3 separate regions of the Homo sapiens genome follow, and regions 2 and 3 are each linked to region 1. The links come from fine-mapping of genetic effects on gene expression. A gene starts in region 1. Each other region holds a variant in brackets. All regions are shown on one strand. Distances are from middle to middle. Region 1 holds the start of TENT2 (terminal nucleotidyltransferase 2). Region 2 overlaps CMYA5 (cardiomyopathy associated 5). Region 3 overlaps TENT2 (terminal nucleotidyltransferase 2).

Region 1 (10,169 bases):
AATCTTTTTCTTTCACCGATTGCAATTACTTTGAGATTAATCCATGTATCATTGCTTGTGTCAATAATTTATTTTTATTCTGAGCCGTATTGTACTGTATGGATATACCATGAATTGTTTATCCATTTACTTGGTTTTAATTTTCTTTTTTGTTTTTTGAGACGGAATTTTGTTCTTGTTTCCCAGGCTGGAGTGGAATTGCGCGATATCGGCTCACTGCAACCTCTGCCTCCTGGGTTCAAGTGATTCTCCTGCCTCAGCCTCTCGAGTAGCTGTGATTACAGGCATATGCCACCCTGATCGGCTAACTTTGTATTTTTAGTAGAGACGGGGTTTCTCTATGTTGGTTAGGCTGGTCTCGAACTCCCGACCTCAGGTGATCCACCCACCTTGGCCTCCCAAAGTGCTGGGATTACAGGCGTGAGCCACCGTGCCTGGTCTGGTTTTAATTTTTATCTTAAATTTATTTTTAGTTTTGTTTTTAGAGATAGGGTCTCACTCTGCTTGTAGTGGTAGAATCAGAGCTCACTGCAGCTTCAAACTCCTGGGTTCCAGTAATCCTCCCTCTTCAACCTCCCTAGGAGGTAGGAGCAAGTTTGTCCAAACCTCAGTCCACAGGCTGCATATGGTCCAAGACAGCTTTGAATGCAGCCCAACACAAATTTGTAAACTTTCTTAAAACATTATGATATTTTCTTTCCAATTTTGTTTTTTCTAGCTCATCAGCTATTGTATTTTATGTGTGGCCCAAGACAATTCTTCTTCCAGTGTGGCAGCCAAAAGATTGGATACTCCTGGTATAGGTAGAAATGGGGGTCTCACTGTGTTGCCAGGCTGGTCTCCAACTCCTGGCCTCAAGCAGTCCTCCCACCTTGGCTTCTCAATGTGCTGAGATTACAGGTGTGACCACTCTCAGCCCATCTGCCTGTTAATGGGTATTTGTGTTACAGGTTTTTTAGGTTTTTTTTTTTGTTTTTTTTTTTTTTGGGACACGGTCTTGTTGTGTCACCCAGGTTGGAGTGCAGCAGTGGTGCAATCACAGCTCCCTGCAGCCTCCACCTCCTAAGCTTACACGATTGTCCTTCTTCAGCCTCCCTAGTAGCTGAGATTGCTATTTGTTTTTAGTAGAGACAGGGTTTCGCCAAGTTGCCCAGGCTGGTCTCCAACTCCTGGCCTCAAGCAATCCTCCCGCCTTGGCCTCCCAAAGGGTTGGGATTACAGGTAATTACAAATACAGTTGCTATGAACATTTGTGTACAAGTCCTTCTGTGGACATGTGCTTTCATTTCTTTTGAGTAAATACCTAGGGATGGAATGTCTGAATCATATGCAAATAAATGTATGCTTACCCTTTTAAGAAACTTCCTAAGTTTTTTCCAAAGTGCTTGTACCATTTCATATTCCCATTAGTAGTGTATGAGTTTCAGTTGCTCTATGTTCTGACAAATTCTTGGTATGACTAGTCTTTTGGAATTTACCATCAAATAGGTAGGGTATGTTGTTGAGGTCTTAATTTATATTTTTCTCTTAATCTGTATTTCTTCTAATGACTAATGATGTTGCATATCTTTTCATGCCTTTATTTGTCATCCATATATGGCTTCTTTGATGAAATGTCTCTTCAAACCTTTTGCCCATTTTTTTGGGTTACTATTGAGGTATGAGAGTTCAAAAAATAGACACTCTGGATATAAATTTTTTTTTTTTTTTTTTTTTTTTTTTTTTTGTGGACAGAGTCTTGCCCTGTCACCCAGGCTGGAGTGCAATGGCGTGATCTCGGCTCACTGCAACCTCTGCCTCCCGGGTTCAAGTGATTCTCCTGCTTCAGCCTCCCAAGTAGCTGGGACTACAGGCGCCTGCCACCATGCCAGGCTAATTTTTGTATTTTTAGTAGAGTCGGGGTTTCACCATATTGGCCAGGCTGGTCTCGAACTACTGACCTTGTGATCCACCCACCTCGGCCTCCCAAAGTGCTGAGATTACAGGCGTGAGCCATCTTGCCCAGCCTGGATATAAATTATTTACCAGGGCCTGGCATGATGGCTCACACTTGTAATTCCGGCACTTAGAGAGTCTGAGGCAGGTGGATTGCTTGAGTCAAGGAGTTCGAGACCAGCCTGGGCAACATGGGGAAACTCCATCCTCTATAACAAATACAATAATTAATCAGGCATGGTGGTGCACACCTGTAGTCCCAGCACTAAGGAAGTTGAGGTGGGAGGATCACTTGAGCCTGGGAAGTCGAGGTAGCAGTGAGTCGTGAGCATGCCACTACACTCCAGCTCTTTTGAGACACAGCAAGACCCTATCTCAAAAAAAAAAAAAAAAAAAAAAACAACCACACACACACATTCTTATCAGATACGTGATTTGCAAATAGCTGCTTCAGTTTTTGGCTTGTCTTTCCATTCTCTTTCTGGGGCTGCAGTGACCTATCATAATGCCATCATACTCCTGGGCTCAAGTGATTCTCTGCCTCATCCTCTCAAGTAGCTGGGACTACAGGTGCATGCCACCATGCCCGCCTCAAATTTTTGATGCTGTTGTAGATGGTATTTTAAATTTCAATTTCAGATTGTTTATTGCTGGTGTACTACAAATGCCATTGACATTTGTGTATTGATTTTACGACCTGTAGTCTTGGTCATTTATTTGATCTGATAGTTTTTTGTAGATTTTGTGCCAGAGTTTTCAATAAATAAAACAAATAAAACCAGTTTTACTTCCTTCTTTGCTAATTTGAATGCCTTTTTTTTTTCCTTGCCTTATTGCACAGGCTAGAATCCCCAGTACAATATTGAACATAAGTTGTCAGAGCAGAAATCCTTGCCTTGTTCCTGATCTTAAGTTGAAAGCACTGTTCTTCACCATTAAGTGTGATGCTTTTTATAGACACTCTCTATCAAGTTGAGGAAGTTTCCTTGTAATCTTAGGAATGGATACTGGATTTTGTCCAATGCATTTGCTGCATGTATTGAGATTATCAAATGGTTTTTCTTTTTTAGTTTGTTAATATGGTAAATTACATTGCTTGATTTACCAATGCTAATTCAACCTTGCATTCCTAGGATAAGCCCCTGTTTGGTTATAATGTATTATCTTTTTTATATATTTTTATGTATTTATATATTTATATATCTTTTTTATATAATCTACTTTTTACTGCCTTGTCTCATGTAAACCTGTGTAATTTCCCATTGGGTCCACCTTAGGAAACAGTCTTTAAAGTTTTCTCCGTAAAGCAAGTACCAGTATACTCTTTTATGGTCAATACAATGCTAATTCAACCTTGCATTCCTAGGATAAGCACCTGTTTGGATATAATGTATTATCTTTTTTATATACTGTGAAATAAAAGTGACTAGAATTGTGCATATTATGTTTATGAGAGATATTGGTCCATAGTTTGCTTGTTTAATATCTAGAGTTTGGGTATTAGTGTAATGCTGGCCCCACAGAATGAGCTGGGAAGTATTCCCTCCTCTTCAATTTTTGGAGGACTTTATCTAGAATTGGAATTATGTTTTCCTTATATATACCATGTTAACACCCTACAAAAGAAAGCCTAAGTAGCTGTAATACTATCAGACAAAATATACTTCAGAGCAAAGAACATTATCAGCAAAGAGGAGGGTCATTTGTAAAGTGGATAATTTCATAATAATGAAACTTTCATAAAGGATAAATTCATACAAATAAGAGAATAACTATGTTTATGCAACTAATAGCTGAGCTGCAAAGTACATGAAGCAGAAATTGATAGAACTACAATTGAAAAAAACCAGTAATAGTCAGAAATTTCAATACTCTCAATAATTAGTAGAATAAGTAGACAGTAAATCAGAAAGGATATAGATTTGAACACTAATATCAACCAACTTGACATGATTGACATTTATAGAACACTCCATGCAACAACTGCAAAAAACACATTCATTTCAAATGCACAGTGAGTATTTACCAAGACAGACTATATACTCTGGGCCACAGAACAAGTGTCAATAAGTTTAAAATTATTAATAGTGTACGAAGTACCTTCTCTGATCACAATGGGATTAAATCAGAAATCAGTAACAGGCAGCTACCTGGAAAACTCCTCCACATTTGCAGACCAACACTTACAAAAAACCCATGGTCAAAAAAAGAAAGCAATAGGGAAATTACAAAGTATTTTGAAATGAAGGAAAATGAAAATACAATATATCAAAATATGTGGAATGTAGCTAAAACAGTATAGAGGGACACTTATCACACCAAATGCCTGTACAAACAAGAGACATCTAAAATTAATGGTCATCAGTTTCTGAGTTAAGAAACTAGAGAAACAAAACAAGAAATTTAAAAATTAAAAAATAGCAGAGTAAAGGAAACAATAAACATAAGAGCAGAAATCAATAAAATAGAAAACAGAAAACCAGTAGAGAAAATCCAAGAAAGCAAAAACGGGCTTTGAGATTTGAGATCCGTAAACCGAGAAGCCCCTCACCAGATCGATCAGAAAAAAAGATGACACACAAATTACCAATTTCAGAACCTGAGGGGTCAGATTTTATAGACATTAAGTGGACAATAAAGGAATACAGCTAACAGATTTGCATTATTAAACAATTTAGACATTTCTACAAATTATTAAAGCTCACTCAAGAGGCGATATCAATAAATATTTGTTGAATTAGTGAATACCAGCTATTACTATGGGCAAGGCGCTAAGTCCAGGCTTTAGAGAGAAAGAAAGCATTTTTTTTTTTTTTTTTTTTTGAGACAAAGTCTTGCTCTGTCGCCCAGGCTGGAGTGCTGTGGCACGATCTCGGCTCACTGCAACCTCCGCCTCCCGGGTTCAAGCGATTCGCCAGCCTCAGCCTCTTGAGTAGCGGGGTTACAGGCGCACGCCACCAAGCTCGGCTAATTTTTGTATTTTTAGTAAAGATGGGGTTTCACCATGTTGGCCAGGCTGGTCTCGAACTCCTGACCTCGTGATCCGCCCGCCTCAGCCTCCCAAAGTGCTAGGATTACAGGGGTGAGCCACCGCGTCCGGCCAAAGAAAGCATTTTCCTTCCAAAGAAGCTCTCAGGTTACTGGAGGGGCAAAAGAACAGATAAAGTTTAATGTTGCTCCGGGGGAGAAGATTAGGGGAACACTGGTTAAAGAAAGGCTTCTCTGGGGACAAGTCACTCGGCCAACACACGAAGGACCCACAGAAAACGTCTGTTACAGCTAGAACGGCTGCACGTGAGTTCAGGCAAGGGGCCCAGAAGTGGCCCTCCGGCGACTGCCTGCTCCACCCCTCTTAGTGCAGTCCTAACCCTTTCCCAACTTGTGCTGGCAGCAGTTAAGAAACTCCTTTCAAATCCGGCTGTCTTGCGCCTGCGCATTCAAGCAAAGCGCTCATAGGCGGGGTGGGGGGGGTGGGGGGGGTTGGGGGGTGGGGGGGGTTGGGGGGTGGGAGGGAGGCGGCCACCGGAAGTGTGACCTTTCGCTCCCCGCTGCCTATTCTCATCCGGGGTCACGTCGGTCTTCCGGGTGTCTTTGACAGGGTTTTCTACGCCGCTTTTTCGGCGACTTTTTGCTCTTCCGCTTTTTGCCACCGCCCCCAACCTTCTATATCCTTGCAGCCCCTACCTTTTCTTGTGTTGCTCCTCCCCTGGCAGCCGTGAGGGGGGTTAGATCTCAGCCGGAGCCGGAGCTGGGCCTAGCTGTCCCACGGGCCACCACTACCTCCTTTGGTTCGGGAGAAAGCTACGACCAAGTACGCCCAGCTCGGGCCTTAGAACTTCTGAACGGGCAGTGCGGGTAGGCCCTGCTTAGCCCTTCCCGGAGGACACCTGTGAGTTTAGGGGGTTTCGGAGAGGAACGCAGCAGTGTAGGCCCAGGTCGGCGGCGGGGCACGGGAAACTTTTCCGAAACGGTAGCGTTTTGTTTTGCGTGGGAGGTTCCAGCAGTATCTCTTGGTTATTCCAAATTTATGGGCGGCATCTGGGCTGCTGTACATTTTGAAGAATCTTAGGACCGCTTACTTTGCTTACTCGTTTTCTATTCCTCGCGTACTGCCTCGTCCACCACTCCAGGACCAAAAGAGGAAGATAGTCTTGGGACCCTTGCATGGTGTTTCAAAGGGTGGTGAAGAACTAAGGTACGTAGCTGGATTAATTAAAAAATTTAAAAGGCATTTATCTTTTAAGCCTTAATTAAATGGCATGAAATTGCTTCAGCTTTTCACTTTATAGGAAAATGCACAGGTTAAGACTGTTGTGTGCGTTTCTTTTCTTGTTCAGCCTTTGTAGAAAAGCTCTTCGTCTCTCAAGGTGAGAACACGAAAGGCTTATATGTCTCAAAACTTATGGATTCTCTAAATTACTTGTCTTATCTCTTTCAACTCTTTGTTTAAAGTAGCAGATATTTTTCATTAGGGTGAACAGAGAAGAAACAAAGGGAAACTGTAAAACACAAGCTAAATAACACATGTGCAGTGTATGATTTTGTGAAGAAAGAGATTGTAACTGATTACTAAATCTGTGTTTTTATATTACAGGTAACATAGTAACTTTTGTAAATATCTTCATATTGTATGGTTCAGTACCACCAGGCTTCTAACACGTACTGATTAACAGCCATAAGGCTATTAATTTATACTGATTAATAGCCAGTAATAGTGACGTTACTTTGTTGGTGTGAATAGCCCTAATTATGTCTGTTCTGGAAATGTCCTGTAACAGGTTCCATGTGAAATAGGCCGTTTATGAGTTGTTTAAGAAATGCCCATTTGGAGCCATGTGACTAGATTATTTTTTTGAACACTTGGGTGTAATTTAATTCTTAACCAAAAGGAATATCCTGTTCAAAACCTGGAAGTAGTTTTCACAGTGGGTTGGCAGGATTTAGGAACTGGATTTTTCGTATTGTGGAGAAAAGTGGGTTTGAGATATCAAAGGTATTTGGACAAAATGGACAGTATCTTGGTTTAGCCAGTAAATTTCTGGTTTTCATTCTAGGTATATTCTGCTTTCTAAAGAATCCTGATGAAGGAATTATATATAACCTTGAGTGTTCTCTAATTTGTTGGAGGAGAGGTCAAGTTGAGGACAGAAATTCCAGGTTGCAAATTCCAGGACCAAATACTTTATAACTAGAAATTACTAGGAATTAATCTTTTTTTTTTTTTTTTTTTTTTTTTTTGCAAGACGGAATCTTGATCTTGTCACCCAGGCTACAGTGCAATGGCACTATCTTGGCTCACTGCAGCCTCTGCCTCCTGGGTTCAAGCGATCTCCTGCCTCAGCCTGCCGAGTAGCTGGGATTACAGGCACGTGCCACTATGCTTGGCTAATTTTTGTATTTTTAGTAGAGGCAGGGTTTCACCATGTTGGCCAGGCTGGTCTCCAACTCCTGACCTCAGGTGATCCATCCGCCTCGGCCTCCCAAAGTGCTGGGATTACAGGCGTGAGCCACTGTGCCCGGCCGAATTAATCTACTCTTTTACTACCTTGTCTCATGTAAACCTGTGTAATTTCCCATTGGGTCCACCTTAGGAAACCGTCTTTAAGGTTTTCTCCGTAAAGAAAGTACCAGTATACTCTTTCATGGTCAAGTACAGATTGTGGAACTGATAACTTTTAAGGTAAGGAAAATTGGATATTGCCAATATCTGGATTTTATGTATCTATCATAAAATTTGTCACATAGGAGATGGTAGAAGACCATAGTTAATGTGGAGTAACGTTTTATATAGCTAATCTCTACTTAAGAAACCTTTCATTCAGAGTATGAAGAAAATGATTTAAAATTTTGTGGAGGTCCCCTTATTTCTGTTACAGTAATAGTTTTACTGTATTTTGTGAAACTCTACAGTCTCTTTAAAAAAATGATTATGTTGTTTATGATAATTGTTTTGATGTCATTTTTATTTTCATCAAAATCAATGTGAAATGTATTAGAAAAAGGCATAGAAATTCATAGGCGTTTCATTTACTTCCTCAACTCTAGATGTCTTTCAGAATACCTATATTGGTGAGCATAGAACGAATGCGTCGGAATGATTTTCCTCTACTTGAAGCCTACCTTCTTTAAAAAGAGCCTGACTTGAGGGCCAAAATTCATACTGAGGAGAGGCTGACAGATCCTTTGTTTTGCAGGGGCTCCAGAGCTTGATATATTTCTGGGAATTTGGAATATGCTAAACTAGATTTCTGCCCTAGACTAAACATCTGGCTGTGGACTCAATCTAAGTTTTTAAGCTGGGGATAATTTGGTCATTAACTTGGTAGAGTAGTTCTGAGCCACAAGTCATCTTTAGACTTAGTTTGGATTTGGCTGTGTAAGAGATGAAAACAAGGTGAGGCCTGGGCTCTTGATGTCATTTTGCATCTTCAAATCTTAATATACATGGACCTTATTCAGTTATAGAGGAAAAACAGCATATTTTTTATAGGTATAAACAAAAGTATCTAGGCTTTTTGCTATGAACCGATTTAAATAAACCTGAAAGTACAAGATTTTAATTCTAGTTTTTCTGAATACATATTTCTTCCATTCACTAGATTTGTAGTGTCTATTCCAACAAAATGAACTATCAAGCAAAATTTGTTACAGTGAATTGTATTTAATATCATTTTCTCATAAATCCTATGAAGTAGGATCCTATGTTTTATGGGAAATTAGGTTAGGGAACCAGAGTAAAAAAGGCCAAGAAGGAGTGTGAGCCTGAGCAAAGGGTGAAAAGTGTTCGTTGCCAGTCTTGAATCTGGCAATCCAAGATTTTTCTTTTTTCTTTTTTTTTTTTGTTTTTGAGACAGGGTCTTGCTCTGTTGACCAGGCTGGAGTGCAGTGGCACAGTCTCCTCGGCTCACTCCAACCTCCGTCTCCCTGGCTCAAGCGATCCTCCCACCCCAGCCTCCAGAGTAGCTGGGACTTCAGATGCAGACCACCACACCTGGCTAATTTTTGTTGTGTGTTTGTTTTTTTTTTGAGACGAAGTCTCGTTTTTTCGCCCAGGCTGGAGTGCAGTGGTGCGATCTCTGCTCACTGTAACCTCTGCTTGCCAGGTTCAAGCGATTCCCCTGCCTCAGCCTCCCAAGTAGCTGGGATTACAGGTGTCCACCACCACGCTAGCTAATTTTGTATTTTTAGTAGAGACGGGATTTTGCCGTGTTGGCCAGGCTGGTCTCGAACTCCTGACCTCAGGTGATCTGCCCACCTCGGCCTCCCAGAGTGTTGGGATTATAGGCATGAGCCATTGCACCCGGCCTAATTTTTTTTTTTTTTTTTTTTTTTTTTGAGATGGAGTTTTGTTCTTGTTGCCCAGGCTGGAGTGCAATTGCGCGATCTTGGCTCACTGCAACCTCCGCCTCCCAGGTACAAGCGATTCTCCTGTCCCAGCCTCCCAAGTAGCTGGGATTACAGGCATGTGCTACCACGCCTGGCTGATTTTTTTTGTATTTAGTAGGGATTTCACCATGTTAGTCAGGCTGGTCTTGAACTCCTGACCTTAGGTGATCCATCTGCTTCGGCCTCCCAAAGTGCTGGGATTATAGGCGTGCAGCCTAATTTTGTATTTGTTGTAGAGATGGGGTTTTACCGTGTTGCCCAGGCTGGTCTTTAACTCCTGGGCTCAAACAATCTGCCTGCCTCAGCCTCCCAAGGGATTACAGGCATGAGCAACTGCCCAGCCCAGGATTATTGTATGTATTTTTGCTAGGGGATTCCCTGGAATGCTGCTTAGTTCAAGATATTTCCATTTCCTCTGAAGAAGCTAGGGTGTACAGGTGAGGAAATATGACAGGATTATTTTCTTTTTTAAAAATCTCTTGTAAAAAGACATAAGGGTCTGCTAAAGAAAGTTGACAGACTCTTGTTTTCTGGAGGTTAACCTTGTCTCTGGTCCAAATTAGAGTCAGGCATTTAGGATGAGGTCTGATGATGGTTCATAGAATTTTGTCCACAATCTGTTATGAACCCTGGACTGGTGAGCCTTGTTATCTGTGGCCAACCTAGGGAATTTTAATCTTATGGAATTGAAAAAACAAGGAACAATGTTTGTGAGGGATTTATTAATTTCTTCCCAGATTTTTCTTTTTCTCCCCTGTTGTCTCTCATAGTTTTTCCAGCCCTCCTAGTCACAATCCCCAGAGGCAGCTACTTCAATTCTTCTGGCTACCTAGTTTTACTTTACTCTG
Region 2 (10,169 bases), 97 kb after region 1:
ATAGGGAGACCCCCATCTCTACAAAAAATTAAAAAATTAGCTGGGCATCGTGATGCGCACCTGTAGTCCCAGCTACTTGGGAGGCTGAGGTGGGAGGACGATTTGAACCCAGAGGTCAAGGCTGCCATGAGCTGCGATTGCACCACTGCACTTCAGCTTGGGCAGCAAAGTGAGACTGTGTTAAAAAAAAAATTCTAAATGTACATCTGTGAAACTGTCCAAACTGTCCAAGATGTGGTAAAGAAGAATATTAGCTAAAATTGCTGAGCATAATTTGGTATCTAAGATGGTGTCCAGGAAAAAAAAAAAAAGGTATTTAATGCTAAATAAAAACTCTCTGTCAAGGCAGGAATCCCAGAGTGTAGAAGGGTGGGGAGGTGACAATCCATAGGGAAAGGGTATGACCCCCACTGTGGGTCTGAATGCTGTATCACACTCAAGTGTGTTTCTGAAACCTTAAAACAGTTCACCCAAAGTAGAGCGACCAGAATCCTGTGAGCAGACCCTGTGTGCAAGGGTCTGAAAGCCATTCGAACTGGTCCTATCACCCAGGAGAGGCTCCATCCTTCATCAAAGCAAGTCATGCCAACAAGCAGAAGTTTTCCTACCCCTTTATTTTTGTTCTCTTGGATATAGATATTAGAAGAGGGAAAAGCAATAAAATATCTTTTCTGAAAGCCAGGAGTCCCTGCCTTTGTTCTTGGTTGATCTCTTAATCTCTTTGGGAAATAATTTTCTGTTACTGAGGGTGCCATTTGGGGATAGCTATGTTGAGAGAGAGAGAGGGAGAGAAAGAGAGAGAAAGAGGGAGAGAGAGAGAAAATACTTGTAGAGACAAGGAGAGACCAGAGCCAAATTGACACATCAGAGATAGAGTAGCTCCCTTGACTCCTGATGGTTTTCCTGTTTCCCCTTCACTGGGAGGCCTAAATATACCTCTGGCCCCTGGAACCTATGAGAAGTCTCTATTTCTTTAAAATAAAAACCCTCTATTTAACCTAGCCTGAAAGAGTTTGTTCCTTACCACCACAAGTGCCTTAACCCCTTCTTAACATTTCTAACAGCTTTTAAACATTTTTCTCCTGGCTTGGCGCAGTGGCTCACGCCTGTAATCCCAGCATTTTGGGAGGCCGAGGTAGGCAGATCATGAAGTCAGGAGTTCGAGACCAGCCGGGCCTAGTATGGTGAAACCCTGTCTCTACTAAAAATACAAAAATTAACCAGGCGTGGTGGCGCACGCCTGTAGTCCCAGCTACTCAGGAGGCTGAGGCAAGAGGATCTCTTGAACCTGGGAAGCGGAGGCTGCAGTGAGGCGAGATCGTGCCACTGCACTCCAGCCTGGGTGATAGAGTGAGACTTGGTCTCAAATAAATAAATAAAATAAAATAATTTTCTCTTGCAGGCCTTGGCAACACATGTGCTCTAAGCCAGAGCTAGCCAAAAGAACCCCTTAAAACTGGAGTTATGCCCAACATGTCCAGAAATACTATAAATAGATAGATAGATATAGTATTTTTTTTTTTTTTACAATCAGGAATGTTTTGGACATCAATAATAACCCTAACACTGAAACCCAAAGCTACCATTAGTCCTTAATCACCACAACATGCCTGCAGAAAATTTTTAAAAACCTGCTTCAGAATTGAAAGAACTTTTATTTCCCACCCACACATCTTCCCACTGCAAATATTTTAAACTTGATTGAACAGAGCTACAGACCTGAAGAAAGGTCTATATTGACCTAACACCAACTTAAGCATATATCATCCAGGAGCTGGTAGAGAAAAAGTCTTGATCAATTTCAGTTTGATCTCACCAATCAGCGTCTAGGACTTTCTTTCAATCTCTCCTGGAGTTCTCTTGGAGAACTGAATACTAGCAGTTCTCTGGAATGCACTGTTGATAGCCACTTGACCTCTTTGAGCCTCAGACTCTGAAAGAAGCAGGTACTGCTACCTGCTTCACAGGTACCTGTGGGGGTAAATGAGAATGGAGATACACAAGGACATCATATGTTCCTGGCACAGAGTGGGACATGGACGAGTGTCAGTTTTCTCTTCTCTCCCTTCCCCATCATCTACTAGTACCCTGAACTATTGCAGGATCTGGCCAGCAGCCCGCAATGCAACAGGGCTCTTTCTTTGTTCCCAGGTGGATCGGCAGGTCGAGAAATAATAGACACACGCAAGATAATGAAAGCTGGGTCCAGGGGAGTCACCGCCTTCTGGTCCTGCGATGCTGCCAATGTGCTGGATATACCAGCATTTATTATTAAGTTTAGTGAGGGCGGGGGTAGGTTAGTGAGGGATTTAGGGTCATTTGATTATGAGGTGAGATGGTCACATGGGGATGAAGTAATTCTTTAACATAACATCTGTATGCAGAAGTACAGTATACAGAGATAAGAATTTACAATATAGTGTGTGCATCTGTAATTTCTAACAGAGCCTTAAAACAGAAGCACAGTCTTTCCATAACCTGTGATTAGCAAGATATTAATCAGCAGTAACAGTTGCAGCAAAAGCTGGTTACAAACAATCCATAGAAACAGGACGTGAAGCTAGACAACCGGTTAGACCAGAAATTCTCAGAACGGAGTACGCCTTAACCCTAAAGAGGCCTAGAAGAGTCATGGCAAGATCAGGGCGTTTATAGCCCTATCTTATCCATATGAACAGGTGCCCCTCATGCGTCCGTTTATAGGCTCTCCACAAGGGTCTCATTCCATTCCCAGAGCTATGAACATCTGCTTTTCTGGGATAGGAATCTTGGTGATGTGAAACCTCCCTGACTGCACGTCCATTCATAGGCTCTCTGTGGGGGGAAGCACATCACGCGCTGTTGGCTCATTCTGGCAGTGCAACCTGGCATTGTCTTTACACAGTCCTGCATGCAATTTTGTATTTACAATAATCAGGAGCATTTCATCTTTTATTCTGTAGCAATAGTTTCAGGGGGTCTCCCTACACTGAACATGAGTTGTTTCCTAGGTTCATGTTGCCATTTCTAGCAATGCTATTCTTCAGCCAGCACTCCTTACCCTGCACCCTTAGTTGAGCTGCACTCCTAGATGTACAAATAACTCTTCTTAGTTTTTTTGCTTCGTTTTAATTTTAAATCAAAACTAGGTGTGAACTCCAGTGTGGACTGCACCTATCCTCACTAGTGTCTTTTCTCTAATTTTCTTGGTGTGGCTTGTTGGAAAATGTTAAAGCTTTCTAGTTAGTATTTGAATACATTTCAGGGTCCTAAATGATGAGTGTTAAAGCCCCACTGCAAGAATTGTCAGCTTTGAACAGAATAGAGCCAGGAATGATGCACCTGCAGCCACTGAGACATACAACTGGAACGGCCCACTCAGCATAACTTTATGAATGTTTCTAGCACTAGAAAGGATTTCATTTTACATTTCTATTTGTTTAAGGACTGTGTGTAGCTTGCCTTTTGAACACATAATACACACTCAAAGATGTTGACTAAGTTAATGAATAATAAATGATGATGAATCAATGAATTCAATGAATAATGAATGATACAGGGAAGAATAATTAGAAGACATATTAATTTTGCTTAGTTACACTTTCCAGAGGTAATCATTATTAAAGAGGTACCTTTTGGCTTAATTATAGGCTTATTAATAAATTAAAGTGAGTTTACATATCTTCAAAATTTGGACTTCACAAGGTTAATTCAACACTGAAAAGGAAAAGGAAGAGAAGAAAAATATTTTCATTTGTCATTTGCCTAGTATGACACGAGATGTTTTACATATCATTTCCACATAACTACCTTATAAAGTAGATATGAGCCACCTGTTGAACTAATGATGACCTTCAAGCCCCGGAAAGGAAGGGGAAGTAATTTGCCTGAGCTCACACAGTGCCTTAGTCTGTCCGTACTGCTATACCAAAATACCTAAGACTGAGTAATTTAGAAATAACAGAACTTTATTTCTCAGAGCTCTGGAGGCTGGGAAGTCTGAGATCAAGGCACTGCAGATTCAGTGTCTGGTGAGGGCTTGAACCTCCTTGCTGAGTCCTCACACAGTGGATGGGCAAAAGGCCCTAGAGTGCTCCCTTCAGCCTCTTTCATAAGATTGCCAATCCCATTTGTGAAGCCTCCATCCTCATGACTTAATCATCTCCTAATGACCCCAGCTATTAATACTATCACATTAGTGATTATGTTTCAATATATGAATTTTATGAGACACATTCAGACCATAGCACATAGCTAATAAGTAATGAAGCCAGGATTTAAACCTAGGCTGCTCTGAAGTCAAAAATGCTATTTCTACCATGCTGTTTCTATCCCACGGACTTAGCACTGTGGGGTATATTAAGATAATGACACATAGTTTCTGTCTCAAGAAACTTATTGTTAAGTAGAAGACACATGGCAAATACTAATCATAATAATAGAAAGTAACATTTGGCCGGGCATGGTGGCTCAC[G/A]CCTGTAATCTCAGCACTTTGGGAGGCCGAGGCAGGCAGATCACGAGGTCAGGAGATTGAGATCATCCTGGCTAACACAGTGAAACCCTGTCTCTACTAAAAATACAAAAATAAAATTAGCCAGGCGTGGTGGCGGGTGCCTGTAGTCCCAGCTACTTGGGAGGCTGAGGCGGGACAATGGCGTGAACCCAGGAGGCGGAGCTTGCAGTGAGCTGAGATTGTGCCACTGCACTCCAGCCTGGGCGACAGAGCAAGACTCCATCTCAAAAAAAAAAGAAAGTAACATTTTAAAAAATGGAGCTGGGTGTGGTGGCTCACTCCTGTAATCCCAGCCCTTTGGGCGGTTGAGGTGAGTAGATCAACAGGAGTTCGACATTAGCCTGGCCAACATGGTAAAACCCTGTCTCTACTAAAAACAGAAAAAAGTTAGCCAGGCGTGGTGGCTCACACCTGTAATCCCAGCTCCTCGGAGGCTGAGGCACAAGAATCGGTTGAACCTGGGAGGCGGAGGTTGCAGTAAGCTGAGATCACGCCACCATACTCCACTCTGTCACTCTGGGTGACAGAGCAAGACCCTGTCTCAATTTTTTTTAAATTTAATTTAATTTAGTTTTTTAAAAATGGTAGTTACCAGAGAAGTACTCTGCTGAATTCCAGTAAATCTGAAGTATTGTATTTCAGAGAAGAAAGTGAGGTAAGAGCCGGCTCAGTGACACTTTGGTTTTCTACAAACAGGTATCAAGGCAGGGCTCACATGGTACCCAGTGTTGCTAAGAGTATGGGTAAGAATGTGTGGCTCTCGTACACACTACTGATAGGAATGCAAATTAATCAACCTCTCTGGAGGGAAAACTGTCAATATGTGTAAAAAGCCTGAAAAAATTATTTTGCTTTTGAGTCTCAAATTCTACTACCATATTATTCTAAGAAAAAAAAATGTGCTGAAAGATGTATCTGTAAGGATGTTTATCAGAGTTATTATAGAGGAAACTTGGAAACAATCTAAATGTTCAACAACAGGGTACTGGGTAAAGAAAGTGTTACATGATGGAATGCTATGTTAACTATTAAATAGGAAGTTGTGGAACTGCAGTGATCAGTGATCAAAGTATGGTTTTCTTTCAGGGCATCCACAAGATCCAAACTATTTTTATAGTAGTTCTAAGACATTATTTGCATTTTCCACTTTCATTCTCTCATGACTGTATAGAGGATGAAAAGCTCATTGATTTTTTTTTTTTTCAGAGTCCACATTGCAACTAATCTTTAAAAAAACGACTACTTTTTAAGTTTTGGTGTGGTATAAAGAAAATATCAGCTGGGCGTGGTGACTCACGCCTGTAACTCCAGCACTTTGGGAGGCCAAGGTGGGCCGATTACTTGAGGTCAGGAGTTTGAGACCAGCCTGGTCAGCATGGTGAAACCCCGTGTCTACAAAAATACAAAAAAAAATTAGCTGGGCCTTGTGGTGTGTGCCTGTAATCCCAGCTATTTGGGAGGCTGAGGCAGGAGAATTGCTTGAACCCGGGAGGCGGAGGCTGCAGTGAGCCAAGATTATGCAACTGAGCTCCAGCCTGGGTGACAGAGTGAGACTCCATCTCAAAAAAAAAAAAAAAAAAAAAAAAAAAAGAAAGAAAGAAAAAGAAAATATCCAGAATTATCTAAAAATTACTCCTTCCTTTTCCAACTACATATCTCTGTGAGGCTAGATTTTCTTTATATATTCCTACTAACAGTACATATTCACATTTTGAATGCAGAAGCAGATGTGAGAATTCAGCTGTCTTCTGCTAGCCCAAACATTTAAAAGATTTGCAAAAATATAAAATAATGTCATTCTTCTCACTAAATGTTTTTGTTTGTGTGTTTTGGAAAATAACTTTTTATAAAATATGTTATTGATGTTGACATGTAGTAGGTTATTATTACGATTTTTAGATGAATTAATAAAAATTTTAAAAGTTCTGTTTTAATTGCTACTACCCTAAATATTGATAAATATAACCCACATGAACAAAAGCTTTTTGAGGTCCTCAATAATTTTTAAGAGTATAAAGTAGTTTTGAGACCAAAAGTTTTGAGAATAGTTGTTGTGGAAAAGTATATTTAATAGCATGAAAAAATGTTCAGAATGTATTTTTTAATTTAAAAAAAGCACATTACAAAACATATCATTTGTGTAAAAGAGGCACATCTCAGGATAGATTAAGAATGAAGAATGCTGATATATTAAAAGTGGTCATCTGAGTGCTGGGATTACTGGTTGTTTTAATTTTCTTTTTTTGTGTGCTTCTGTTTTCCTATATATCCTACAGTGAAATTTATATTTGGTTATTAGAAAAATTTTTTATTTTTACAGGTAGGACCTAAAAATCTTGAACTTTCCCCTGAGTTCAACTGAGGAATGGGGCAAAATGTATTAACAAGGGTGGTCTGTATTATGGTTTTTAAAACATTTTACTGGATCAAATGCACATCATTTTTAGTGGGTTTTTCTGTCTTTCTCTTTTGTGGGTGATTAATAAGAGAATCTTATGGGAAATTCAGCTTAATTTTTAGAACTCCTGAAGAGATGTAAGTGCTATAGTCTTATAACAATGATTTTGGGGATGCAAAGTTTTCCAATAATCTAACTTATTCCAATACAGTCCTCTATAAAAACAAAGCTATTGAATCTCCAATTCTGAGGTTTTACAAGTCAGAAATCAAAAGGCTACTAGCAAGTTATTTCCTAATGTATCAGTAAGGATTTTACTTAATCTCTTTGTTTTTTCCCCCTGTGGAATTTTAGAGACTTCTTTTTATAAGTTCTATTTTACTGTTGGTTATGTTTTAGGTAAGAGGTTTCTTGTGTTTTTCTGGTGGTGCTGTTTGAGCCTGATGATGGGTCCATCAGGTAGGTCGTCTGGGTGCTTTTCACTGGCAGCTCCACCAATAGCCAGGCTGCTGCTGATCTGCTTTCAACTTCAGAGGGATCAGGCACCCCTGCCACCAACCGTACCTGGCAGAATTTGTCTAAAGTGGAATAGCCACTAAAGGTGGTACAGAGAGAAAAAGAATGTAAACTACGTAGACAATTGCTTGGAAAGTTGAAGAGGACAGAGGCAAAGTTTAATTGTCAATATAGGTTTTGTTAGCAGACTTTGTAAATTATGTTCTTGAGAAATGAATCTTTCAGGTCGCAAAGGCTACATTGGAGAAAGAAATTAACCACTTTCAAAAAAAGATAAAGATTCCCATATACCCTTATAGATCATTGGTTTGAGAATAAATAAAAAAATGGGGGCTGGGAAATTTTCTAAACATTTTATGTATGCACAAAAGAACATACTTTCTAATACTGTACTTGAAGAAAACACAAAGTTAATGGCGCTAATAAGTTATCATCCAGAGCTGATCCAGCAGAAAATATTTGAGGATTTGTCAGTAACCATAATATAATGATTAATTTTTCTTGATGAATTATTGGCAGCATTAATTGTGGGCCTAGATTGAAATTCAGTGGAGGAGCACCCAGAAATTGAAGAGAACGTGTATGGTTGTTTTTCAATCACAATTTTCAGTATGATCCCCTTCCATCTTCACTCCCTCTTCGCATATGGTACAGCAGTATCTCAAGGATGCTTCTCTCCGTAGCTGGAGAGTGCCATCACTGGGCCTCCAGAGGACTCTCTCTTAGGTTTATCCAAACAGGCCCGGAGAACCAACACACTGCCACCCAAGTCTGTCTGCTGGCACCAGGCAAAGGGGTCCTCTCTCCTGAAACTCCAGGGCTGGGATGTACTTCACCTATCCCTGTTCATCCCAGGAGCATCTGCTGGAGTGAGACATTGGTGTTTTATTTATTTATTTGTTGTTTGTTTATTTATTTTTGAGTTGGAGTCTTGGCCTGTTGCCCAGGCTAGAGTGTGGTGCGTGATCTCGGCTCACCGCAACCTTAGTCTCCCAGATTCAAGCGATTCTTCTGCCTCAGCCTCCCAAGTACCTGGGATTACAGGTGTGCACCACCATGCCCAGGTAATTTTTGTATTTTTGTATAGATGGGGTATCACCATGTTGGCCAGGCTGGTCTTGAACTCCTGCCCTCAAATGATCCACCCTCCTCAGCCTCCCGAAGTTCTAGGATTACAGGCATGAGCCACCACACCCGGCCTATTTTTTTTCTTCTTAAAAAATGACAGAGAAAAAAAAAAGTGTTGCCAAACACTATATTAGGTATATGGACAAACCCCGATTCCATCTAATAGATGAGCTGGGCTTTATTTTTAAATGTATTACTATTATTATTTTCAAGGCTACAATGTAAGGGCTCTTTCTCTGTTGCAAATTTAATACAAAAAATTGCTGGAAGGCCATGAAGGAAATCTGATCAGATTTCTTCTACTTTTTGGACTGATTTGCCCTCATACTTCATGTTTTTATGGAGTTATAATTGTATTAGGAAAAAAAAGTCAGTGTAACAGGTGGGGAGAAGTCTATCATGGCTCACTGGTTTATTTTAAAAAAGATCCCAACCTGACATATTCTATTCAGATGAAGTGCTCTGTCTCTTAGTAACCACCACTCAACATTCATGGGAATTTGACAGCAGTGGCTGGCTTCTGCTCTGTGCTAATATTCAGTAGCTGTTGAAGAATTCCAGCACTAAACAGTTAAGCCTATTTAACTCCTTTGCTGGGAGTCCCAGGAACCTGAACATTCTCATCCTCCATGGTTTTTCACTTGTATCCTCAGCCAAGGTTGGTGTTGCCTATGGTTGAGTGTCTTTTCTCACTCTTGAGTCTGCCTTCACCAGTGGTTCTCAGCTATTACATATCTGAAGACATTTTTTATTGTCACAACCTGGGATGGGGTACTAATGGCATCTGGTGGATGGGGGCCAGGGAGGCCACTAAACATTCTCAGCACACAGGACAGTCCCCACCCCGCTGCACCCCGCCCCCACCCCCCACCCGCCGTCACAAAGAATTATCTTAGCTCCTAATGTCAATAGTGTCACTGTGGAGGAATGCCCACCTCCCAAGACCACAAATAATTGAGTTTCCTATGTTTTGGTCTGAAGCAGTCACTAAGCTATGTAACAATGCTGTCACACCATAGCTTATTTATTTTGGTTCTCTGGACCTGGCGTCTCTTTGTCCTTAGTTTTTTATAATAGTGGAGAATTTAGTGGTTGAGTTTTATGCTTTTCGCTGGCAGACTCGGATGTGTGCTTGCAGTTTATGTAATTGAATAACAGCCCCAGCTCATGGCCAAGACCTGAATAGATAGATACTCCCTAAATATTTATAAATTGATTGTGCATGCTAAAGCCCAAATGGCTCTTTTTTAACTCTGGAGAGAAATGATTTTTGTAATTCCAGAGTTCTCGATGGGTCATGTTAACACCTTTACCTACTACTACGTAGATACTTCCTACTTGGAATAAATGGAGTTTATGCATGCGGCCCACATGTAGTATTTTGGTTCGGGAGGAGTAGGGGTAGGAAAGAAGATACTCACTACTTCGAAATCTCCTACCTTCACATGGATCGCATCTTCATCTTGTCCTGGTTGTAAGGACAGGCACATGTCTTAGTCACTCAATGACTCAAGTTATCTTGGCTGTTAATAACAAGTCTATGTGTATCCCACCGTTAGCCAATTATCAGGACTGTCCAAAGCCCTAGGAAAGACAGAATGATGGTGGTTTTCCAGTCTGCTTGGAGGTTGGAGT
Region 3 (10,169 bases), 37 kb after region 1:
TTTGAGACAGAGTCTCGCTCTATCACGAGGCTGGAGTGCAGTAGCATGATCACAGGTCACTGCAACCTCCACCTCCCTGGTTTAAGCGATTCTCATGCCTCAGCCTCCTGATTAACTGGGATTACAGGTGTGTGCCACCTCACCTGGCTAATTTTTGTATTTTTAGTAGAGACAGGGTTTCGCCATGTTGGCCAGGCTGGTCTTGAACTCCTGGCCTCAAGTGATACATCCACCTTGGCCTCCCAAAGTGCTAGGATTACAGGTGTGAACCACCAAGCCCAGCTGATATATATTCTGTAATTTTGATGGTAAAACATTGTAACAGAAAATTTTCAGGTTTTAAAAAATCCCGGTACTACTTTTTCTGTAGTTAAAAAATGAGAAAATTGCTCATTTGGGAAAGATTTTCAGAATTTCATTTTTACACACTTCTGTATTTTCCTAATTTTCTATGATAAGTATATATTACTTTCAACTCTAATTTTTTAGTTTGATGGAATAAAAATATGTATGTACATTTTATTATATGTTGTATATGATATATGTATGTATGTAATACATATCTGTATGTGTATTTGAATTTCCTATCAACTCATACTCCTTTGTATAATAGCACAATAATTGGTGTTCACTAAGCTGATCTGAATTTTTCACTTGTAGAGATCATGTATATAATATATGTATTTTTCACTCATAGAGATCACACTTATCGAATGCATCCAAGCCCCGTGTATCATGTTGCAAAGCATTTCCACACATAAGACTCTGTAATTATGATTTCTACAGTTACCATGATACCTTACTGTGTGCTGTACCAAAATTAGCTATTCCCTCTGCTGCTAGCCTAGATATATTTTCACTCTTACAGTGGTCTAATGAACTTCTCTATAGATACTATATTAGATCACATTCCTGAAAATAACCTTAATATAAAGCCCCCTAAATGGTATTACTGGAGCCTCCAACCTTAGAAGAATTTGATAATGTCCTCACTTGTATTCTTTTTCAAAGACGTTTTCTTAAATTATTTTAGCTTAGTAAATACTATTTTTTAAAAAATGTGCGTTGGAACACTGTGAATTCTAGAAACATTTGCAGCTATTCACATTATCTTTTGTCTTTCAGCGGGCTACATTGAGAGACCTCAGCTGATTCGAGCAAAAGTGCCAATTGTGAAGTTCAGGGATAAAGTCAGGTAAATAATTAATGAGCTTTCTTTTTTTAGTTCCTTTAGATCATTTTTAGATACTCATCTGATAAAGATAATTAAGAAGTGTATGTTGTAGCATTACAGTTTATTTTAATCAGTTTTTAGAAATCATTTGACTTGGTGTTTGAAATGGTTTTTTAAAATTGAGCAATACTTTATGCTTAACTGTACTTAGCTATTCTGCTTGACATTTTGAATATGTGAGACTATCTAATTTAAAGAGTACATATTTGTATTTTAGATTTTTAAATGATCTCTTGCCTTTTGGAAGTGTAATGCATTCTGAAGAATATAATTAATGAAATTTGACATGTACTAATATCAAGGGGTTTGTTTTAAATACAGTTATGATTAAACAAGTTGTGTTTCATTTTTATGAAAGATACATATAATACCTAGAGTAATAGATATGAAAGGAAAACAGCAAAATATACTTGTTCCATTTCAAAATTTACATTTATATATTCTACCAGCTTGGGTTCTGAATGTCTTATGGGCATTGGAATTGTTTTGTAAATAGATGTTGATTATTTCATTAGTTAAACTGATTTGTTACTGTTTTCTAAAAATAGAATTGTGACAGATTTCATAAAATTTGTCCAGTTTTACAAAATTAATACTGAAATTGTGCCCACAAACACACACACACACACATTGTTGATCCTTATCATTCATAGTTTGTGTTTTCACGAATTTGCCTACTTGCTAAAAGTTATTTGTAACTGCCTACATGAATATTCATACGCTTTTGTGGTCATTTCGTGGACATACACAGAGTAATGAAAATTTCAGATCACCCAATACCATGTTTCCAGCTGAGATAGAATTAGGTGACACACTGTCTTCTTGTTCAGCTTCATACTGTAAACAAATAACCTTCTCACAGTCTAATTAATGCCATATTTTTCACATTTTTGTGCTTTTTTGCTATTTAGAATGGCCCCCAAGCATAGTGTGGAGTTACTTTCTAGTGTCCCCAAGTGCAAGAAGGCTGTGATGGTGCCCTATGGAGAAAATATGTGTTAGGTAGGCTTCGCTCAGGCATGAGTTATAGTACTCTTGGCCATGAGTCCACTGTTAATGAATCAACCGTATATATTAAATACAATGTCTTCAAATAGAAGCACAACATAAAACTTGGTTATGTATTGATGAGTTTATGAAAATGTGACCAGGCTGGCAGATACCTAACCCTGTGCTTACCCTAGGAGCAATGGTATAGTATTCACTAATTCAGTGTTTGCAGCAACTTTATAGAACGTAGCTACTATGAATGATGACTGAATATATATATTTTAAACAAACTTTAATGCCTGGCTCAAGCCATTCCTTTATATATCTAAACATCAATCAGATCTATAAATACTTATTAAATTTCTGCCAAGTAAATTGTGTCAGATTTTCCTAAAGCAGATATAAAATATATAGGGAGATAAAACATAAAGTTATAATATTAGCTAATTATAAGTTTTTAATAATATATGGTTGTAGTTATAGTTACAAAGGTAGTTTTATTCTTTTTCTATTTAAGATCATCCTGCAAACTTTTTTTGTTCCTAAGCTTTTTTTTTTTTTTTAAGAGACAGGGTTTTACCATGTTGCCCAGGCTGGAGTGCAGTGGCATGATCATAGCTCACTGTAACCTCAAATGCCTGGACTCAAGTGATCCTCCCATCTCAGCCTACTGAGTAGGTAGGACAACAGGCACACACCAACACACTTGGTTAATTTTTGTATTTTTGGTAGAGACAGGGTCTCGCCATGTTGCCCAGCCTAGTCTCGAACCCCTGGCCTCAAGCAATCCTTCTACCTTAGCCTCCCAAAGTTCTGGAATTACAGGAGTGTGCCGCTGCACCTGGCCAAATCCTGCTTCCCAACAGAACCATATCTCATGAATATTTGGTTATATCATTAAATAGTGTTCTACAGCATCATTTTTAATGGCTTTATAGTATTTCATTGAGTGAATAAATTGTCATTAACTTAACCATTCTCCTGTATTTGAACATTTGGTGTGTTTCTGGTTTTTAGATAATATAAATAAGTATTTTGTGCATAAATGCTTTCCATATTGAGGATCACTTTTTTAGTATTTCTAGAAGTAGTGTTTGAAGCAGGAACTGTGGATATTTTTAAAGCCCTGAATTCAATTTTGGAAAAATTTTTAACTGCAGACTAGTTGCCATCTATGTGTTTTTCTTTTCTATTGAGTTACTATGTGGATGTAGTACAAATTGGCTTCAGTGTTAGAATTACACAAACACAAAGAATAACTCTATTATTACTGTAAGTTTCCCAAAGCCAAATAACGTATAATATCTGAAGTGTTAATACTACTATCCATTTTTATTAATATGCATGGATAATGGAAAGATTGTAAGATTTTCTTTTGTTCCACCAAATAAGAAAGACTGAAATGGTAGATTTCAAATTTTATACTTAAAAGCTATAATTAATATAGAAATATTTTGTTTTTATTTTAGACAGTCTTTTCACAGAAAAAATTAGTATTTAGAAGTTGGGATCTCGCATAGGTATGAGTAGAACTGACTTACATAAAGTAATCCTTAATTTTTTATGAGTTTAGCCATTTTTTATACATTGCATCATTATTGCCGTATTTTCTAAATTATGAACTGCATATATTTGCTTTCAAAGAAGTAATCATTATGTGTTTGAGTAGTATAGATAGCTCTTCCCAGGTATCAATAGCCAAATTTGACATGATACTGTAATTTACTAGCCTTTTTAGAGGAAATATAATGTGTAGACAGAGCTTTTAAATTATTTCCCCTGTATTTAATTTGGCTTTTTATTCCTGTTGTTTTAAAGTATATGATGCTATAATTCCAGATTATTTGAGAGTGTATAACTTAATGGGATAACTTGCTCAGAAATGTTTTTGGTCACATAGTTTTGTTTATCTGGAAACTTGTGAGATTTAAAAATTTTCGGCTGGATATGGTGGTTCCTACCTATAATACTGGTGATTTGGGAGGCTGAGGTGGGGGAATTGCTTGAGCCCAGGAGCTTGAGGCTGGAGTAAGCTATGACTGTGCTACTGCACTCCAGCCTAGGCCACAGAGCGAGACTCCATCTCTTTAAAGAAAAAAAAAAAGATTTAAAAATTTTATTTGGGGTAATTGGAGCCTTAGCAGTATGTTACTGATCTTTCCACTGGAATCTTATTTTATATTTTCAGTACTCATCAGATCACATTGAAATAACATACTGAGTATTTGTTCATTCTTATTTCTTTAGTGTGTCATTTTAAAAACACAGATCTATGGCCTTTGGGCCCATACTATTTTGCATCATGGGATGGATGAGCATTAATTTAGTTATTAGGAAGGAAGTTTTTTTGTTCTTCAGCTAAAGTTTATTTATTTATTTATTTTTTCTTAAATAGTTGTGTGGAGTTTGACTTGAATGTAAACAATATTGTTGGAATAAGAAACACATTCCTTCTCAGAACTTATGCATACCGTAAGTTTGTTGTTTGTTTATTAAAAATTAGCCTTTTTTTCTTTATTCATTTTTAAAGATGTTTGGCATAAATAGTGACATCTCTTTAGTTGTGTTTAAGTATAGTGTATCTTATTTTATTTGTATATGTTGCTACACTAAAATCATATACTGTCAGTTATAGGTGAATCAAGTGGCATTTTAATAATTGATAATTTTTAAAAGGTAACTAAGGTAAGTTTTAGACATAAGACACAAAGTGAACAGACACAGTGTTTAATATACACG[G/A]AGACAGTGTTCTTTGTTTTGGTATGGAGCTGGGAAATGATGTAAACTTTCAAAGAAACTATAACGTCTCTTACCATGTTAAGTTTTAATTTTACTTTCAGTTGAAAATCGAGTTCGTCCGTTAGTGCTGGTGATTAAGAAGTGGGCAAGTCACCATCAGATAAATGATGCCAGTCGTGGTACTTTAAGCAGCTATAGTCTTGTATTGATGGTTTTGCACTATTTACAAAGTAAGTATAATGGGGTTTTACCCAATTTTTAAAAGTAAAAGACAGCTTTATTATGGTGTCTTCTCTGTTGACCCTATTTTCAAATAGTATTGTTTTAAAAGTTCTTTCTAAGGTCCATGAAACACATTTCCTGTTTTGTTGCTTTGGACAAATGTTTCAGAAGTGTTATTCCTTGGAAAATATAGAAGTTTCACTGTTTTTTTTTTTATTTTTTGGAAGTTTTTCTATAGTCACTTTTGTTTTCAAAGAACTTTCACCACTGTATTGTGGACCCATTATCTTGAAGCAGACGAATGTTCAAAAGGCCTATAAAAGTTAGCTCAAGTACTATTCATCATATTTTTAATTTTGAATTTGAGACAGGAATTAAATTATTTTCCTGTTGGTTAAAGAAGCTTTTAATCTCTGAGTTGCCCTCCTTAACTAGATTTTATCTTCATAGGGCTGTTTTATCAGATTGGCTCCCAAATTTTAATTTTGTCTGGTTAGTCATTGTTTATGAGGCCATTCTGGTAAAAGCTATACTTTTGTCGCATGCATAGTGGCAAACAGTAATAAGTGAACACTTGTAATTTGGACCATTCATAAGTGTGAGAATTTTTACGGTACTGAAAATTTCCTAGACGTATAGGACAGACTGACTGGATCTATTTGAAACCCTTACTTTCATATTTCTCAAAAATATCTTACATATGTAGCAATCCAAGAAATAAACATTAAGCTGCTTTATACTTTCTACTTAGCCTGACACCAAGAGTTGTTAAAAGATGGATGCATCTACTGTTTTGTAGTTATTAGACCAGGAGACTGAGATGTTTAATAACTAACCAACTGAACATATGAATATGTGGTGACATGAAGACCGAGTGAAAGACTTGGTATGAATGTAGTAGAAGACCGTTTGCCAGGATGTCTGGGGCTTGATCTGTTCTGGGTTGGTGATACTTCCACAGTTTAGAGTCTTGGTTTCCAAAGATTACAATAATAGGAGAAAACATATTTTAGCATATATAATACTCATTTCTTCATTCTATGAATATGTATAGAATACCTACCAAATAAATGCTAGGTATTCTAGGATCTGAGAATACAGCAGTGAACAACATACAAAAACAATTACCTTCTTCATGAAGCTTACATTTTTGACTTGTAAAATGTCACATTTTCATAGCTGTTACCTACCAAAACGTGAATTATTAAACAACTCACAGATTACTAATAAAATGTGACATTTTTACCACGGTTGTGAATTGAGCTGCTGATAGAGCACTATCAACATGTGATATGCTCAATAATAATTATTACAGTGTAGTCATTAAAAAAAAGTATTGAAAAATATCCTTTTATTGCATTGTTTGGTGCTCCTTGTATTTAGATTCTGAGAGGGATAACAGATAATATTAGCAATTTTGTCAACAGCAGCTTGGGCTTGGAAAGTTGAGATGATTTGATGCCCTTATAGCTGTGTTTCTGTACTGAGGATACTGGGAACTGGGAAAAGAAGAAGGCACCTTTCCTTATGCTATAGATCAAAAATGGTTAGGGTTGGGGATTACAATTTTGTTAACCTAATTCCTGGTAGACTGGGCTTCTTTGGATAGGGATTGGAGGATGATACCCAAATTGAGAATTTCTTTATAGTGAGTCACTTTTACTAGTATAGGAGGATAGATAGAAGTGGTTGGGACAAAAACAAAGATTGTCTTACCAATGCCTTAAAAAAGAGCAGTTCAGAGGTGAGATTGGTTGTCAGGAATTCTCTATTTTGTTTCAGAATTATTATGTTTAAAATAATACTTAAAACGTAGTGATATTAAAAGTTATTTTACATTTTAAAATTCATTTTGAATAAGTTGTGTATACATTTCATAGAAAATCCTGAGAATATACTAAAGTGGACAGAAAAAAAATACATTTCCCATGAATTTTCACACCCAAAAATTGTTATTGTTAATATTTGTTTTATTTTTTCTGGCTTTTGTTTTTTTTGCAAAGGTTTCAAGATGTTTAGCCAAATATAAATACATAAATGTCAAGTTCAGGTCTTTTAATTCCAAAAGTTGGGGACAAATAAATAACTGTAAAGGGTGGATGTTCTTTTTTCCTCTACAAAAACATGGTCTTCTTAAATAATGTTCTTACATTTTCTTTTACCTGTTCATTACATGATTCTCAGACTTTTAGATTTCAAGGAAAGTAATATCCAAAAAAAAAAGAACCAAACTGGAGTTTTTATTTTGCTATGTTAAGTATTAGAACCAAAAAACTGCTACCAATTACTACCATCACTTCATAAAAGATGGTGCATAAAATACCAAAAAAGCAATGATATAATCTCAGAATAATGGACAGACCATCACAAAACAGTCTGATTGTTACACCCTTTCCACTTTTGGCACACACACACACATTTTGATTTTTTTTGTTTATGACAGCTTAGTAACCTTTCCTCTATGGTGGAGAATTTGGGGAGCATTTTTTCATATTTATCTTAATTGAAGTAGTCTTAGAGCTAGCTAGTTCTCAAGAAAATCTTGATTCTACCTTTAGACACATCTTCATCCCATCTTTGTCTGGAGATAGGGTGCCATTATTTGACTAAAGTGTTTATGTTAATGTTCTTAATTTCATAGTGTGTCAACCTTGTCCGTTCTTGGTAATCAAAGTTTTATGGTATACTCCTAGGGTGAAATTGGCATTCTACATTCTTGACAGAATATAATCTTATACTCTGTCCTGTTACTTACAGAATTTCACTTGAACATGTATTACAGATGTAGGGATTAATATTCTTAAATTGGCAGTTTTTAATAATGACAAAATGGAATACACAATCATGCTGAGAGTGTTGATTTGGTACAACTCTTTTAGAAAGCAGTGTTGTATATTTGTGTTCATGTCCTTTGACTCAGTTATTTCATTTCTAGAAATTTATCCTAACGTAATAATGAGTGGTACATATATGGATGTACATGTAAAGCTATTTTTTTATGGTGTTACGTAAATAATAGAAGATTAGAAGTACTCTTAAATTTTCTAGAATAGGGGAATGGTTAAATTAATTACGATATACCCTAATATGAGATCTACATAGCCACCAACAATCATGTTTTTAATATATTTAATGATACAAGAAAATGTTCATGATATATTCTCATACATCATAATACCAATTTTATTTAAAGATAATAACTGTGTATATATATTTGTATATATACAAATACTGAAAAGGTAGGTGCCAAAATTGTATCAGGGTTATTTGTGGACAGTTTAGCAAAGTTCTCTGTACTTCACTATACTTGCAGATGTTTTATAATATATGAGAGTATATTTTCCTTTGGATGCTGGTCTCAAATGATTTTTTTGACTTATCGAGAGAGACAAAATAGTTTAAATGGGCCATCATTTTATGAATCAGTCATTAGAGAGGTTTGATAATCTTCTTTAATGTTAAAGTAGTTCAGGCTAATCTTAATACATGTATTTTTATTGCTGACCAGTCTTGAATATATACTGGTTTGATGATTGATTTGCCCCTCTAAAAAAATTTGAAACATATGACATTGGCTGTTTTAGATAATACTTTGTGTCATTAATCATTTTTGTCCAATTTTACAAAATATATGTCAATCTTGAACATATATTACTTTATAATATATGTTACTTTATAATATATGTTCAGGTGAACTCTTAACATATTTTTTTCAGTGAACTCTGTTCTCTTGTGGGTTACAGTTTACTTTCATTAAAAATGGAATAGGATTTCTTATATATATAAAATATAAAAAATATGTGGCACCACCATTCCCTATTTATATTTTAGTTGTGATTTAAAAATGAGATTTGACTAAAGCATTTAGCATACATGATCATCCATAATATGTGCCCTACTCCTTAATTCTTACTGGTTACCTTAGAAATTTTAAGTTTGACTGACTTCTTTAGAAAAATGTACGTAAATCACAGATGCCCCAATGTGGTATTGAAAGCAAATTAAAAATTTTAAATTAGGGCCAGGCACAGTGGCTCATGCCTGTAATCCCAAGTGCTTTGGGAGGCAGAGGTGGGAGGATTGCTTGAGGCCAGGAGTTTGAGACCAGCCTGAGCAATATAGTGAGACTCCTCCATCTACAAAAATAAAAAATGAAAAAAATTAGTTGGGCATGGTGGCACATATCGTTAGTCCTAGCTACTCAGGAGGCTAAGGTGGGAGGATTGTTTGAGCCCAGGAGTTTGAGGTTGCAGTAAGCTATGATTATGCCACTGCATTTCAGCCTGACCAGCAGAGTGACTGTGTCTTAACAAAACAAAAAAATTAAACATTGCTATTTTGCCAGTCTGATCAAATCATATTAAAATTTAGTTTAGACTTTGCCAAACATTTTATTTTTGACAGAGTAGTCCCATTTACTGAAGTGGTTTATAATTAATGGCACTGCATTCAGCCATTCCTAGGTCTTTCTTGAAGGACATTAGCTACCCAGAGCTAATGTGTATCTCTATACTGGCAAATTTAAGCTACTCCTCCCTAGAAGAAATGAGATGATTAAAATAGTTGCTTTTCTTGGCAGTATCACATTACTGTGAGGGAAAAGGGCAAACAAGAGTCTGCAAGGTGTATTGAGTAGTTACAGCTCTGCCACAAAAAACTAGTTTTTGTGACTTTGGTGAAGTTATTGTACCTCACTGGCCTTAATCTCACCTGTAACACAAACAGTTGGATTAAATGACCTTTACGTTTTGTTTAACTTCTTAAATGCTTTAATATCTTTTCTGCCATAAGCAGAGAAAGGAAATAGGTCCTCTGTATGTAGAAAAGGTTAAAAAGATTAACACATTTCCTAGAATAAATTCCAGTAGTCAATAATTGACTACAGATACTTGAAAGATGACTCATCAAAGCATGAGGGGGAATTGAGAAAGGATTTTAATTATAATTTAAGAGTTAATGAAAAAGGAGGCCGGGCACGGTGGCT

The links.
Region 2: its variant is fine-mapped to the expression of TENT2 in whole blood (INTERVAL, PIP 0.92).
Region 3: its variant is fine-mapped to the expression of TENT2 in whole blood (INTERVAL, PIP above 0.99).

What each region holds. Positions count from the first base shown.
Region 1 is chr5:79,606,946-79,617,114 of GRCh38, forward strand. TENT2 (terminal nucleotidyltransferase 2) reads left to right here and starts at 5,496. Exons shown (of 15, transcript NM_001114394.3): 1 at 5,496-6,130. LOC124901014 (a long non-coding RNA gene) reads right to left here and starts at 5,392. Exons shown (of 2, transcript XR_007058840.1): 1 at 5,197-5,392; 2 at 4,526-5,075. RefSeq lists an enhancer at 5,101-6,300.
Region 2 is chr5:79,703,907-79,714,075 of GRCh38, forward strand. All of the region lies in intron 1 of CMYA5 (cardiomyopathy associated 5), which reads left to right. Among named protein-coding and RNA genes, the nearest start is that of CMYA5, 19 kb to the left of the region's middle. The variant G/A (reference allele first, on the strand shown) is at 4,454.
Region 3 is chr5:79,643,998-79,654,166 of GRCh38, forward strand. It overlaps TENT2 (terminal nucleotidyltransferase 2), which reads left to right. Exons shown (of 15, transcript NM_001114394.3): 8 at 1,126-1,195; 9 at 4,620-4,696; 10 at 5,065-5,193. Among named protein-coding and RNA genes, the nearest start is that of TENT2, 37 kb to the left of the region's middle. The variant G/A (reference allele first, on the strand shown) is at 4,964.